Homo sapiens: one gene and its partners. The protein of the gene in region 4 interacts with the protein of the main gene of each other region in a pairwise test. Each region holds a gene or a part of one and is shown on either strand. Other genes may lie near its edges.

The links.
Region 1: the proteins of TFCP2 (region 4) and TDRD1 interact in binary tests that used the Homo sapiens proteins (3 or more experiments, as listed by UniProt).
Region 2: the proteins of TFCP2 (region 4) and CDC73 interact in binary tests that used the Homo sapiens proteins (3 or more experiments, as listed by UniProt).
Region 3: the proteins of TFCP2 (region 4) and E2F8 interact in binary tests that used the Homo sapiens proteins (3 or more experiments, as listed by UniProt).

Annotation. Positions count from the first base shown.
Region 1 is NC_000010.11:114,213,853-114,217,352, forward strand, and holds part of TDRD1 (tudor domain-containing protein 1), read left to right. Parts: intron 1-124; coding exon 125-262; intron 263-3,500. UniProt on the Homo sapiens protein: Plays a central role during spermatogenesis by participating in the repression transposable elements and preventing their mobilization, which is essential for the germline integrity.
Region 2 is NC_000001.11:193,125,031-193,128,530, forward strand, and holds part of CDC73 (parafibromin), read left to right. Parts: intron 1-81; coding exon 82-187; intron 188-3,500.
Region 3 is NC_000011.10:19,223,946-19,227,445, forward strand, and holds the end of E2F8 (transcription factor E2F8), read right to left. Parts: intron 1,920-3,500; coding exon 1,787-1,919; intron 1,671-1,786; coding exon 1,276-1,670; intron 896-1,275; coding exon 713-895; 3' UTR 118-712; downstream 1-117. UniProt on the Homo sapiens protein: Atypical E2F transcription factor that participates in various processes such as angiogenesis and polyploidization of specialized cells.
Region 4 is NC_000012.12:51,110,636-51,114,135, reverse strand, and holds part of TFCP2 (alpha-globin transcription factor CP2), read left to right. Parts: intron 1-3,152; coding exon 3,153-3,259; intron 3,260-3,500.

The DNA.
Region 1 (3,500 bases), on a different chromosome or scaffold from region 4:
TTCCTATAAAGGCACTTAAAAAGTCAGTGGAAATTCAGTTCTTCAAAAGCGGGTTCCTCAGCCACCCCAACCTCGCTACATCCCTCCTCCACTATGTCCATTTAATGTTTAATTATTTTCACAGTTCCCTTGGGTGTGGAAGGAAAAGTAAATCCATTGGAGTGGACATGGGTTGAACTTGGTGTTGACCAAACAGTAGATGTTGTGGTCTGTGTGATATATAGTCCTGGAGAATTTTATTGCCATGTGCTTAAAGAGGATGGTAAGTTGATTCTTGTCATTTGTTTCTTTTTACAAATACATTGGCATAGATAATAACTTCACATGAGTTTGTTACTAAGTGATAAAAGTACCTCTTTCCAAGAAGAGCCAAGTGGTATTTGTATTTCCAAGAAAGATTTGGTTATACTTAGTTAGCTTTTATTCTCTTTTAAGCCATTATTTCTATTTTCAACAATACCTCTTTATATTTAAACTAGTTTACATTTCATAGAGTATCTCCTAAATTCATTTACAGAAATTAATTCGGCCTGGTATAGTGGCTCACTCCTATAATCCTAACACTTTGGGAGGCTGAGGCAAGAGGATGACGAGGCCAAGAACTCAAGGGTGCGGTGAGGCTTGATCATACCAGTGTACTCCAGCCTGGGCAGCAGAGCTAGACCGTGTCTCTGGAAAACAAACAAACAAACAAAAAACAAATTTAACTTGTGTTGAAGTATTAGTGTAACGTATAGATACATGTGTATATAGGAGTACAACATAATGAATTATCACAAACTCCACACACTTGTATAACTAGCCTCTAAGTCAAGCAATAAAACATTACCAGTATCCCAGAAGTTTCCCTCCTATCCCCTCCCATCATTACCTCTTCTTTCTTTCTTTTTTTTTTTTTTCATTGAGATGGAGTCTCGCTCTGTTGCCCAGGCCTGAGTGCAGTGGCACAGTGTAGGCTCACTGCAACCTCTGCCTCCCAGGTTCAAGCGATTCTCCTGTCTCAGCCTCCTGAGTAGCTGGGACTATAGGCATGTGCCACCACGCCCAGTTAATTTTTTTTTTGTATTTTTAATAAAGGTGGGGTTTCACCGTGTTAGCCAGGATGGTCTCGATCTCCTGACCTTGTGAATCCACCTGCCTCGGCCTCCCAAAGTGCTGGGATTACAGGTGTGAGCCACTGTGCCCAAGCTGCCACCTCTCTCTTTCAAAAGTAAACATCTTGCTTTCTAATAGCATAGATAAGTTCTTCCTGGTTTTGAACTTTCTAGAAATGGAATTACACACTATGCGAGCTTCTGAGCCTTGCTGCTGCCCCCTGCACTGTGAGATTGTTACATGTCTGTACCTTGTTTTTCCTTGCTGCATAGTGTTCCATTGTATGTTACATGTATCTGTATCTTATTTTTCCTTGCTGCATAGTGTTCTGTGAATTGTATTGCAGTTTCTTTCTACCATTGGACACTTGGCCTGTTTTGCTTGGGCTGTAAATTAGTGTTGCTGTGAACATTACAGCATATCTGGTGCACATGTGCAGGCATTTTCATGGAGTCCAAACCTAGGAATGAAATTATTAGGTCATAAAGGGTATGTAAATTTGCAGCTTCCCCATCTACAAAGGCCAGTTTCTGAAGTGATTCAGAAACATCTAGTTGCTCCACATCCTCACAAACATTGTGTGTTTTCTTTTTCATTTGAGCCGTTCTGATGAGCATCATTGATCTTAAGTTTTCCAAATATTGGTTTTTCTTTGTCAAATAAGGACATTAAAGTAGATAACTAAGGCCCTGTCTGACCCCATAGTTGTGAGATTTGTCATTTCTTCATTCAGAATCATCTGGTTGGTAGGCCACCATTCCATATAGGATAAAATTTACAGTTTTGAAGTTCCTTTTTATTTTTAAAGGTGATTATACAAACATAATATAAAAATTCTAAAGATGAAGAAGGAAACATGAAAACATGTTTCAAAAGTGTATATAGTGCAAAGTAAGTTTCCTGGTTCCTCTTCTCAATTTTCCAAATATTTTTTCAGAGATACTCTATACATATGCTTGTATGAGTATATATAATCCTTTTCTATATCTATCAACAGTATAAAATGGTAAGTAATTTTTGCATTTTTTCTTCCACTACATTTTGGATATCAGTTCACATACTGTTTTCTCCAGTCTCTTTTTAAATAACAGTTTTTATTTTGGAATAATTTTAGGTATACAGAAAGTCACAAAGATGGTACATAGAGTTCCTGTATACACCTCACCCAGCTTCTCCTGTAGTTAGCATGTGATCGTGGCACATTTGTCGCAACAAAGAGACCAACAGTGGTATATTACCATTAAATGAACCCCAAACTTTATTTGGTTTTTGCTAGATTTTTCACTAGTGTCCTTTTTCTGTTCAGGAGCCACTCTGTGACACCACATTGCTGTTTAGTCTCTATTCTTTTTCATGGCTACATGGTATTCCACTGTGTGGGTTTATCCTAATTTAATTAACCTAAGTTAACATCTAGTTGCTCCACATCCTCACAAACATTGTGTTTTTTCTTTTTTGTTTGAGCCATTCTGATGAGCATCATTGATCTTAACTTTTCCAAATCTTGGTTTTTCTTTGTTAAATAAGGACATTAAACTAGATAACTAAGGTCCTATCTGACCCCATGGTTGTGAGATTTAACCTAAGTGTGGATACACACTACTAAGTGTGGATAAATACAGGATTAGTGGTTTCCAAGCTTTTATTACTAAAACAAATCCTTGTACTGTGATTTTTACTTTAGGAGTAGATCTCTGGGACAAGTTGCTAAAATTGTAATGAGAGTATTAGGTCAAAGGAATATGTGTATTTGTGCTTTTGAGAGCTAGTGTTCTTCAGAGGCCAGCCAAACAATCCCCCAGCAGCAGAGTGTATCATTGTCTATTGTGTGTCCTTAAACTTTATTTAGCCTAATCTGAAAGGTGAAACATCTGAAACATTAGAATTTATTTTCCATTTTAGTAAATGAGCCTTTGTCACATTCTTAAAAGGCATTTGCTTTTCTTTTACTACTACTAAGTGGTTTAGATCCCTTCTGCATTCAGAAGCTCTCCATGGTCTGCATTTTGCAGGGACAGCTCCAATGTCTCTCTCCAGTGGCCACTTCTCCACTTCTGCGCTTCGCTAGCCTGCTGCCCACTTTTGGTTGCCTAATTTCATAATTCTGTCCTTTGTCTGAGAGCCATGTCTTCCTTCTGGAAATACCCTCTCCTTCAAATGTGATGTACTTTGTATTTCTGTATGAAACCTCCAGCACGCAGAGCTCATGAGCTCTGACTTCTTATACATTACCTGTGCCATCCATTTAGTGATTATAGTCACTTTCAGGACAGCTTTTATGTAGCTTCTGTATGGGCTTGTATGCTGTTTTCTTATCTCCCTGCAAAGTTCATGCTTTAGTGTACTGATAATCATGCTGTAATTGTTTCTTTTTGCCCAGTAAATCGTTGGTGTTGGGTTTATTG
Region 2 (3,500 bases), on a different chromosome or scaffold from region 4:
AAGTTGTTTATATAAATGAATCCAGCCTGAAGAGTTGAATTAGAATTGTCAGTAAAAAAAATCTTGCCTTAATTATTTCAGGACTGGAAAGGAAGGCCAACCCAGAGAGTACTACACATTGGATTCCATTTTATTTCTACTTAATAACGTGCACCTTTCTCATCCTGTTTATGTCCGACGTGCAGCTGTAAGTAGAATTCATTTTACTTATCTATCTATTTATCAGTTTTATTTTTATTTATTTAAGAGACAGGGTCTGGCCTTGTTGCCCGGGCTAGGGTGCAGTGGTGTGATCATAGCTCATTGCAGCCTCGAACTCCTAGGCTCAAGTGATCTTCCCACCTCTGCCTTCAAGTAGCCAGGACTGCAGGCCTGTGCCACCGTATCTGGCTAATTTTTTTTGTTGTTGTTAAAGATGAGGGGGTCTTGCTGTGTTGCCTAGGCTGGTCTTGAACTCCTACCCTCAGTGGATCCTCCTGCCTCGGCCTCCCGAAGTGCTGGGATTACTGGCATGAATCACTGTGCCTGGCCAATAATTCATTTTAAAACTTTTTTTTTTTTTTTGAGATAGGATCTGGCTCTGTTGCCTAAGCTGGAGTGCAGTGGTGTGATCTCGGCTTACTGTACCCTCTACTTCTCGGGCTCAAGCCAGCCTCCCACCTCAGTCTCCTGAGAAACTGGGACTATAGGCATGGCCCACCATGCCGGGCTAATTTTTGTATTAACACATTTTTTTTTTTTTTGGCTTCGTGGTAGTAGGTATCATTTGGAATGGATAGCTTCCCTCATGGGTTTCAAATCAAAAGAATGAAAGGTTTGTATGAGTGTCTCCAGGAGAGTCAAAATTAGGTGACTGTGTGACTTACACAGACTTTTTAATCTGTGATATTTTTTCATGTAAAGTGTGGGTAATGTTTATAACAAAGGAAGTTTTAAAGGGATTTATAGAGCCAGGCTTCTTAGTGCACGCTGGTAATCCCAGCTACTTGGGACTCTAAGGCGGTAGGGTTGCTTGAGCCTAGGAGATCAAGACCAGCCTGGGCAACATAGTGAGATGCCATCTCAAGAAAAAGAAAACCCGAAACGCTAAAAGTATTTATAGAGATGTTTAGAAAAACTTGTAAGCCTGTGGAAGGACCCTGTTACTTCAGAACTCTAGTTTAATCTCAAGAAAACTTTTTTTGGTTGTAAGGATTAAGATTAGCAGACATTTAAAAAAATTGTTTCTTAATCAGTTTTGTGCAGCTGTTTTAGTACTCTGGAGAAGTTCATTTGTTTTTAGTTTTGCTTGCTTTCTCAGTGTTTGAAAATTTATTACTCAGAGGAAATATTTGGAAACAACTTGAAAAGAACTAATTTCATAAACTATGATGATGAGATTCTTCATCTGTAGGGAAGTATCATTAAGACCTAAATTATAGCAGTATATTATAATTGATAAGTAAATAAGATTCAGAGTTATTTGGATAGGATAGCTGTATGACATGGAAAAGTACTATAATGCCCACATAAAATGGCCTAAAAGATATTTAATTTTTTTAAATGAGCTTTTCCCTCAGATTATTTTTGGTAGAGTTGAACATAAAATTTTTTGAAGATATAATTGAAATAATTAAATGTCTGCTTTTAATATTTGTTGCTTTTGCTTACAAGTATACACTTAAAATTAAGTATGAAATGTATTTATAAATAACTACTTTTTCCCATTTCTTATAGTTCTTAAAACAATCTTCTTAAACTTTTCTTATAGTTCTTAAAACAATTTTTTAAAATATCACTGTGTCTGTCATCACTGGAGCTGCTTTTTGAGTTACCTAACACCGTTGCTGGATCACATTAAGCTGTGTGAAACTTAACTTCTATAACTCTAACCTCCCTCCCAACTAGAAATAGTTAAGGTTTCTGGCTTATGTATCTTTCAAACAATAACTTGTTGTCTAAAGCAACTAAAAGCCAGGTGTGGTGGTGCATGCCTGTAGTCCCAGCACTTTGGGAGGCTGAGCTCAAGTGGGAGGATCACTTGAGCTCAGGAGTTCAAGACCAACCTGGGCAACATAGGGAAACTTTGTTAAAACAAAAAATAAAAAAAATTAGTCAGGCGTGGTAGTGTGCACCTATACTCCCAGCTGGCTACTCAAGGGGCTGAGGTGGGAGGATCACTTGGGCCCAGGAGGTTGAGGCTGCAGTAAGCCATGATCACACCAATGCATCTATCCTGGGTGATAGAGCAAAGACTCTGTCTCAGGGAAAAAAAAAAAATGTGTGTGTGTGTGTGTGTGTGTGTGTGATTATAGCAATTGAGAAAGTATCCCGTCACTTAGTGGGCTTTGTATTAAACCATAAGGCTTCTGCTTTCCTGAGTAAGAAATATATATTTATGTTACATATTTAAAAAAATAAAATTAGAGTGGGACTACTTGGGAAAATAAGGGGAAAAAAATAGCACCAGCTCCGTCTTTAAGGTTATTTTAACTCAGATCTTTAAAAACTAAATTAGGTAGTTCTTACAGTGTTTTGTTGGATATATTCATTTTAGTGTAACAAAGATTCAGATAGTTGGCTTAGATTTATAGATTCTGTTTTTGGGAAATGGTTGTGCATATAACTGATAGCTGTAATTGTTACTGTGGACCTTGGGACCCTTGGTTGCATAAGATTTAACTCATTTTTCATAAGTATTTGCCAGATTGAAAGAGTAGGATTCTAAAATTCCAAAATTCTATGAATTCGAGATTGTTGTCTCCTAATTACTTTGTGTTATTTGCTCTTTCCTGTGCGCAGACCACTCATTTTTTTTTTTTTTTTTTTTGAGTGCAGTGGCGTGATCTCGGCTCACTGCAACCTCCGCCTCCTGGGTTCAAGGGATTCTCCTGCCTCAGCCTCCCAAGTAGCTAGAATTACAGGCACACGCCACCATGCCTGGCTAATTTTTGTATTTTTAGTAGAGACGGGGGTTCACCACGTTAGCCAGGTTGGTCTTGATTTCCTGACCTCGCGATCCGCCCGCCTCGACCTCCCAAAGTGTTGGGATTACAGGCGTGAGCCACTGCGTCCGGCTGAGCAGACCACTCTGAAAACAGATTCCTGATCCTTAGTTCCTATTTTAGTGTGAGTAGATGTAATCTTTTTCAGTGGATTGTGATGTGTACATAACTCAGTAGTGACCAAATGATGATGTAAGTTATTAGACTTAGAAACAGTAACTTAAAATTAACTCAAATCTTTTAACTGTTTATGATATTCCATATAGACTGGTTTATTTTTATTTTTTATTTTTTTTTGAGACAGAGTCTTGCTCTGTCACCCAGGCTGGAGTGCAGTGGCAGGATCTTGGCTTGCCACAGCCTTACCCTCCCGGGCTCAAGTTGTCTTCCTCCTTCAGCCTCCTGAGTAGCTGGGAGTATAGCTGGGACTGCAGGCGCTTGCCACCATGCCTGGCTAACTTTTATATTTTTGTAGAGTTGGAGTTTTTCCATGTTGCTCAGGCTGGTCTCGAACTC
Region 3 (3,500 bases), on a different chromosome or scaffold from region 4:
TTTGCATATCTAATGGAACCCAGCATGGATACTCTTTACTAAGAATTTGCCTCTGTGATTAGGTAAATTTTAATTTTCTCCCAACAGTGCCCTAACCGGCGAAATGAAAATGCTAACTATATTTTAGAAAAGTTTTAATTTGAACAACTTATGATTAAAAATACATTTTATAAATAATTTTTCCATAGACTTGATTGAGGATTGTTGCAAACTTTACAAAAAGATACACTGCAACAACAGATTAAAGAAATTACAAAAAATATAGCTATACCCCTATTTAAAAATACAACATTATACATCACACAGCATTTTCTTTGTGCAAAATGTTTAAGGGAATGCTGTGTTAGGCATGTCAAGCATATTTGCTTAGAGGGAAGTAAACTTTAATACAGTTACTTTGCATAATAGTATAGGCATAGCTAAAATAATGGATTTTTCCCCCTAGAAGTTAATATATCTTAGAGTTCAACATTTTACTTTTATTTTGTAGGATTGAAAGCTAAACTTAGCTTTATACAAATATATGTGTGTGTGTGTGTGTGTGTGTGTGTGTATATATATATATGTATGAAAACAACTATCTGATTTCACATTGAACAAATCCCCAACGTATTTACAGTATTTTCAGAGAATGTGTTCTCCAAATCAGTCTGTGTACATTTTCTCTATTAAACAACTCTTTAGAAAATTAAACTAAGCCAACATCTGTTGATTAATGGACATCCTCTGTTGAGACTTCCAGTTTTCGCTGTGGGACAAAGAGAGTTCCTAAGGAGGTTTTATTAGCACCCTCAAAATCCATGCAGGATGAGCTGGTTGGCTTGGTGGGTCCACCTGGGGTACGGAAGAAACTTTCGGCCACTAATTGTGACCCTTTGGGTGTCACAGGAACAGGCTGATTGGAAAGAGAAGAATGGACAAAAGAAGTCAACCACACACAGGTACATAGTCTTACCAGACTTGGAAGATTGGGCTGGATGAATGTATTGCACATTGGGAAACTGGCGTATCTTGAAATTGGCGAGGGAAGCTTTGGTGAGTTTTACATTCTCAATTATTTTTGTTAGGGGAGAGACAAAAATCTCATGATAACCCAACAATATGGATGCCTTGGACACTCTTCCTGGGTTCTGGAAGAAACATAGGCCTTCAATCTCCTGACTTTCCCATCCTTTCCCTCTCCAAAGAGGAAAAGCAAAAGCCAATCTCTTATGACACAGATACTTGGGGCTTAGTAATTCCAGGAAAAATTAAATTAAGTAGAAAGCCTCTCACCTGTTGTGCCCCTGTCACAGCAACTGATTGTCCATTTGGCTGGCTCTGGCCTGGGACTGGTGAGTCATAGTTGGTGGCCCTTCCTTGCTGAGTGCCTGCATTTTCTGGTGCGACATTAACAGACTCTATTCTTGGAGACACAGGAACGATTCCAGACCCAGGGCTGGCAGACAACTGCACATTGGGTGAGATGAGTCCCAGGTGCTGCAGGGTGAAGTTTACAATGGCTGAGCTTGGGTTCTGGATGGGAACAGGGTGGCTTGAAGCGAGAGCCGGGCTGTTCCCGACAGGTACGGCTGCCACGGAAGTTGGTGAGACCATTAGCTTCAACGGTGTTACATGAAAAGAGGGAAAATTAACAGCAGTGAGTTCAGATGATGTCACTGGAATAACACCTGGAAGGAAAAGGGGGAAGATATCTTAAAAGCACAGGCATTTATCCAAGAAGTTGACAAGGCTTAAGTGAACTTGAGACCGGCCCACATCTGGTTAGTGTTTTATGTGCACTCACCTGCAATTGGGGAGCTGTAAATCCTGTGGTTTGGGGAAAGAGCACTTGAGTTTTCTTTACCAGACAAAATGGACTCTGCCCCCAGGGATGAGCACTGCGTGAGAGGGATTAGGTATCCTGATGGGAACAAGGTCTAGAAAACAAGGAGGAAGGGTTTATTTTACACACAAATACAGGAAGAAAAATGGCCACGTGCCTCTTTCAGGACTAATATCCCTTGGTGGTTGCCTCATTGGACCAAAGCCTCCAGCGGAGTGGGCTGCAGGCAGGCTGGTCACCTGGCTCCTAGAGGAGAATACCCTCCCACCCTTCCCAATGCTTGCCCCGAATAATGCAGAACATGTTTCTTAAATGCCACCTGTGGTCTTAGGACACCTTTGGATGATGGCACTGACCCTGCTTAGGGGTAAGGATTCATCCAGCACACCACTCTTAAACTGATAACTTAACTCTTGCTACTGGACTCCTTGGTATGATGTAGTAGTAATTGATTGTTCTTGAATTATGTAGAACGGTATTTCCCAAAGGGCATTCTGAGGGACCTGAGGTCCATGGGTTGCAAACAGGCATTACCTGATTCTTGGTCAAATATAATTGGAAAATACTGAATTAAACAAAGTCAAATGGTGTCTTTATTAGAGAATTTCCAAGAGATTTTAATGGTGGCATGCCTTAAAATTCTCCAAGTGGGGCACACAGCAGGTAGCATTTCCCAAACTATTTGGCAACTATATTTTCAGTAGGCAATTAAGGAGGACTAGTATTCTAAGGAAACACTTTAAATGACATTGATTTAGAGAAAGGGGGCTAAACTATTGGCCATGTGCCAATTCCCACTCCCTGCCTGTTTTTATAAATAAAGTTTCATTGGAACACAATCATACTCATTCATTTATGTACTGCCTATAGCAACTTTCCTGCTACAATGGCAGAGTTGACTAGGTGCAACAGAGCCCATATGGCCTTAAAACCCAAAAAATGTCTACTATCTGGCCCTTTAAAGAACGTTTGCTGGCCCCTGATTTAAAACAGAAATTATATAAGTAAAGATTTCTTTCTAGTACTGCTTGCTCTAATGATAACAAGCAGTCTTAAAATACGCAAAGTACACCAGAGTTAAAAAAATTACAAATAAGAGAACTGATTAATTCATATTAGAGACGCACATGCCATTGAGCAAAAGCTTTAGGCAATAAAGTTATATTGCAACTAGAAAAGGCCCAAGGGTAGGGTTGCATGTACCTCCCAACATGCCTATTAGATCACTGTACTTTCCCAAACAGAAAAAGTTTACACGGGTGCCTGAACTGCATGAAAAGTCTGCTTTAGCCTTACCATGAGCGGGACTGGCAAAAGCTAAAAACCGCTCTTATAAACTAGGGACCTCCTTTTTTCTTCCTTCAGACCTTTCTTCTCTCCATTGTCAAAACAAGTTTAATCTAGTTGTTAATAGGTCTTTTCCTTGGGAACCAGGAAATTCAGAATCCACAAAGCTAAAAGTATACTACAAGCTTTTAATTTTGTTTCTTAAGTACTTGGTCCCACTCAAAATCTCTACTAGTAGGTGCCTTGAAAACTGCAGGAAGAGAGAATTTTTAAGGGGCAAATTTAGGTGCTTTATGAAGACCTGCGCTCTATTAGCTTTAGTTATATTCTCTCATGGTACAAATTATTCTGACTGCTGGTTTAACTCTTTCAAGTCTTCAGTAAAACC
Region 4 (3,500 bases):
GATACTATCCTTTGATGCACTAAAGTTTTACATTGAGGTGGTCCAATTTATCTAATTTTTTTTAATTCCCTGTGCTTTTGGTGCCACATCCAAGAAATCATTGCCAAATTCAGTGCCAAGAAGCTTTTCCCATATGTTTTCTCCTAAGAGTTTTATAGTTTTAGGTCTTATATTCAGGTCACAGGTCCATTTTGAGTTCGTGTTTGTATATGGTACAACCATATACAAAAAAGGTTGTATGGTAAACCATATACAGAAAGAAGGGCCCAACTTCATTCTTTTGCATGTGGATACCCAGTTTTCTCCACACCGTTTGTTGAAAAGACTGTTCTTTCCCCCACTGAATGGTCTTGCACCCTTGTCAAAACTCATTTGACCATATATTTGAATACTTATTTGTAGGCTGTCTATTCTATTCCATTTGTTTAAATGTCTGTCTTTATGCCTATACCTCACTATTTTGCTAAGTGTAGCTTTATAGTCAGTTTGGAAGTCGTGAAGCATGAGAACTCCAACTTTGTTCTATTTCACGATTGTTTTGGCTGCTCAGGATCTGATATTTTGTTTTGCGTTTGTAAAGAGGGGCAGACTTTTTTCCCCAGCATGCTGAAAGTTCCTTCATTTTACTAGTGCCTGAGAACCAGGCACTATAAAGTGGGAGTTCTGGTATTAGAAGCTATGTCACTTGGTTTGCAGTTAAGTTGTGTCTTCCCACGTTGCTACACAGAGTAGAATTTGTTTTTCCTAAGTCATAGGGTATAAAGGAAAGATCTTCACAAATACACATGCAGTCACTTTTCATGGTGTCTGCCTCTCTGATTTCTAATTGGTTAAAATTTCCTTTTGGTAAACATAGTTGTTAAGAAAAATTTAACTGCTACTAATTTTACCTGAGAAAACATTGGTTCTCATGCAGTGATCCTGATATCTGTATGATAAGTTGACCTTAAGATGAATCTAACACAACTAATATTGTGGAGTGGGACCCACTTGATGCTCTATTGTTTGAATCATTGATACCAAAACAGTAGTATAGTTAATACCACAGTTCTGATAATACATATTACCTGGCCTTAACTCCCCAGTTTGATCATTAATAGGAGAAATCAGGGAATGCTATTTGAATATCTGCTGTGTGGAATGGAAAGAAAAGTTCTACTCAAACCCATTAATTCTTGCTTCCCTTTTAAGTAAAGATTTGTCACTCTGTTATAGGATTATTTGATGACTTGGTAAGTCAGCATCAACCATCTTTTTTTTTTTTTTTTTGAGACAGAGTCTTGCTCTGTCATCCAGGCTGGAGTACAATGGCATGATCTCGGCTCACTGCAACCTCTGTCTCCCGGGTTCAAGCCATTCTCATGCCTCAGACTCCTGAGTAGCTGGGATTATAGGCATCCACAACCACGCCCAGCTAATTTTTATATTTGTAGTAGAGACAAGTTTTCACCATGTTGGCCAGGCTGGTCTCGAACTCCTGACCTCAAATGATCCACCCGCCTTGGCCTCCCAAAGTACTGGGATTGCAGGCGTGAGCCACCACGCTTGGCCTGCATCAATCTTTATGTTAAAATTTTCCCACTTTCATTCATGATATAATGCTTTCTACCTTCATATAGACACTCTGCTGCACCCCTTCAATAGCAATACTCTTAATGTGCTTTTGGCAATGAAACTAATTTTCAAACTGTAGTTGAAATAGATTATAAATTACAGTTTTCATGATAGTGTAGACTTAATCCACCTTAAATAGGATTTTAACAAATTAAAAGGAAACTGCCTTTAAATTGCCATATTTTAAGCTAGAAGGAGGATACTAAACATTCCCAACACAAAGAAATGACAGATGTTTGAGACAATGAATATGCTGATTACCCTGATCTGATCACTATGCATTATATGTATTGAAACATCACTATATAGCCCATGAATATGTACAATTATTATTTCTCAATTTAAAAATGATTTTTTTGTTTTTCGAGACAGTCTTGCTCTGTCACCCAGGCTGGAGCACAGTGGCGCAATACTGGCTCACTGCAACCTCCGCCTCCCTGGTTCAAGCAGTTCTCTCTGCCTCAGCCTCTCAGGTAGCTGGGATTACAGATGCCCACTACCATGCCTGGCTAATTTTTGTATTTTTTAGTAGAGACGGGGTTTCGCCATGTTGGCCAGGCTGGTCTTGAACTCTTGACTTCAGGTGATCCGCTCACCTTGGCCTCCCAAAGTGCTGGGATAACAGGTGTAAGCCACCACGCCTGGCCTAAAAATAATTTTTTTTTTTGAGATGAAGTCTTGCTTTGTCACCCAGGCTGGAGTGCAGTGGCTCGATCTCCGGCTCACTGCAACCTCCACCTCCCAGGTTCAAGCAATTCTCCTGCTTCAGCCTCCTGAGTAGCTGGGATTACAGGTGTGGGCCACCACGGCCGGCTAATTTTTGTATTTTTAGTAGAGATGAGGTTACGTCATGTTGGTCAGGCTGGTCTCGAACTCCTGACATCATGATCCGCCTGCCTTGGGCTCCCAAAGTGCTGGGATTACAGGTGTGAGCCACCGTGCCTGGCCAAATAATTTTTTTAATTGCCGTATTTTAAAAACTTTTTAAAGAGGAAAAAAGGTGCTCAAGCAAAGTACTTAAGTCAATTTTACTCTAATCAAATATTTTCATTGACAAAAAAGAAATTTAAGGTGTGGGCTGGGCACAGTGGCTCAAGCCTGTAATCCCAGCACTTTAGGAGGCCAAGGTGGGTGGATAACCTGAGGTCAGGAGTTTGAGAGCAGCATGGCCAACATGGTGAAACCCCATCTCTACTAAAGATACAAAAAAATTAGCCGGGCGTGGTGGCACGGGCCTGTAATCCCAGCTACTCAGGAGGCAGAGGCAGGAGGATCGTTTGAACCCAGGAGGCAGAGGTTGCAGTGAGCTGAGATGGTGCCACTGCACTCCAGGCCTGTTACCACTGCACTCCAGCTTGGGCAACAGAACAAGACTCCATAAAAAACAACAACAACGACAAAAAAAAAAAACAAAGAAATTTAGGATGTGATATACAAAAATCTTGGTAGCTACATTGAGTAATATAAGAATCAATGCTTTCTTATTTAAAACTGAGTGGCCCTCAAAATTGTTCAATGATTACCATTTTGTTTCTCAGATATCCCGATGTCTGTGGGTATAATCGATCCTAGGGCTAATCCAACTCAACTAAATACAGTGGAGTTCCTGTGGGACCCTGCAAAGAGGACATCTGTGTTTATTCAGGTAAGGCGTTGCAGATAGGGTTCCAGTTTTGAAGAGTATCTCTCTTACTATCAGTTTATTTCTTAAAGGATAAAACATGTTAACTTTGAAATCTTTACAGGGTTCTAGCCTGACTGTCAAGCCCAGGCTCTTTAACCTGTGCCTGAGAGCATTGAGGAGTTTCTGAATTGCTCTTCTAATACCCCAGTTTATTTATTTGTGTCTCCCAAAATTGCTTGGTAATGGCTGCATAATATTTCAT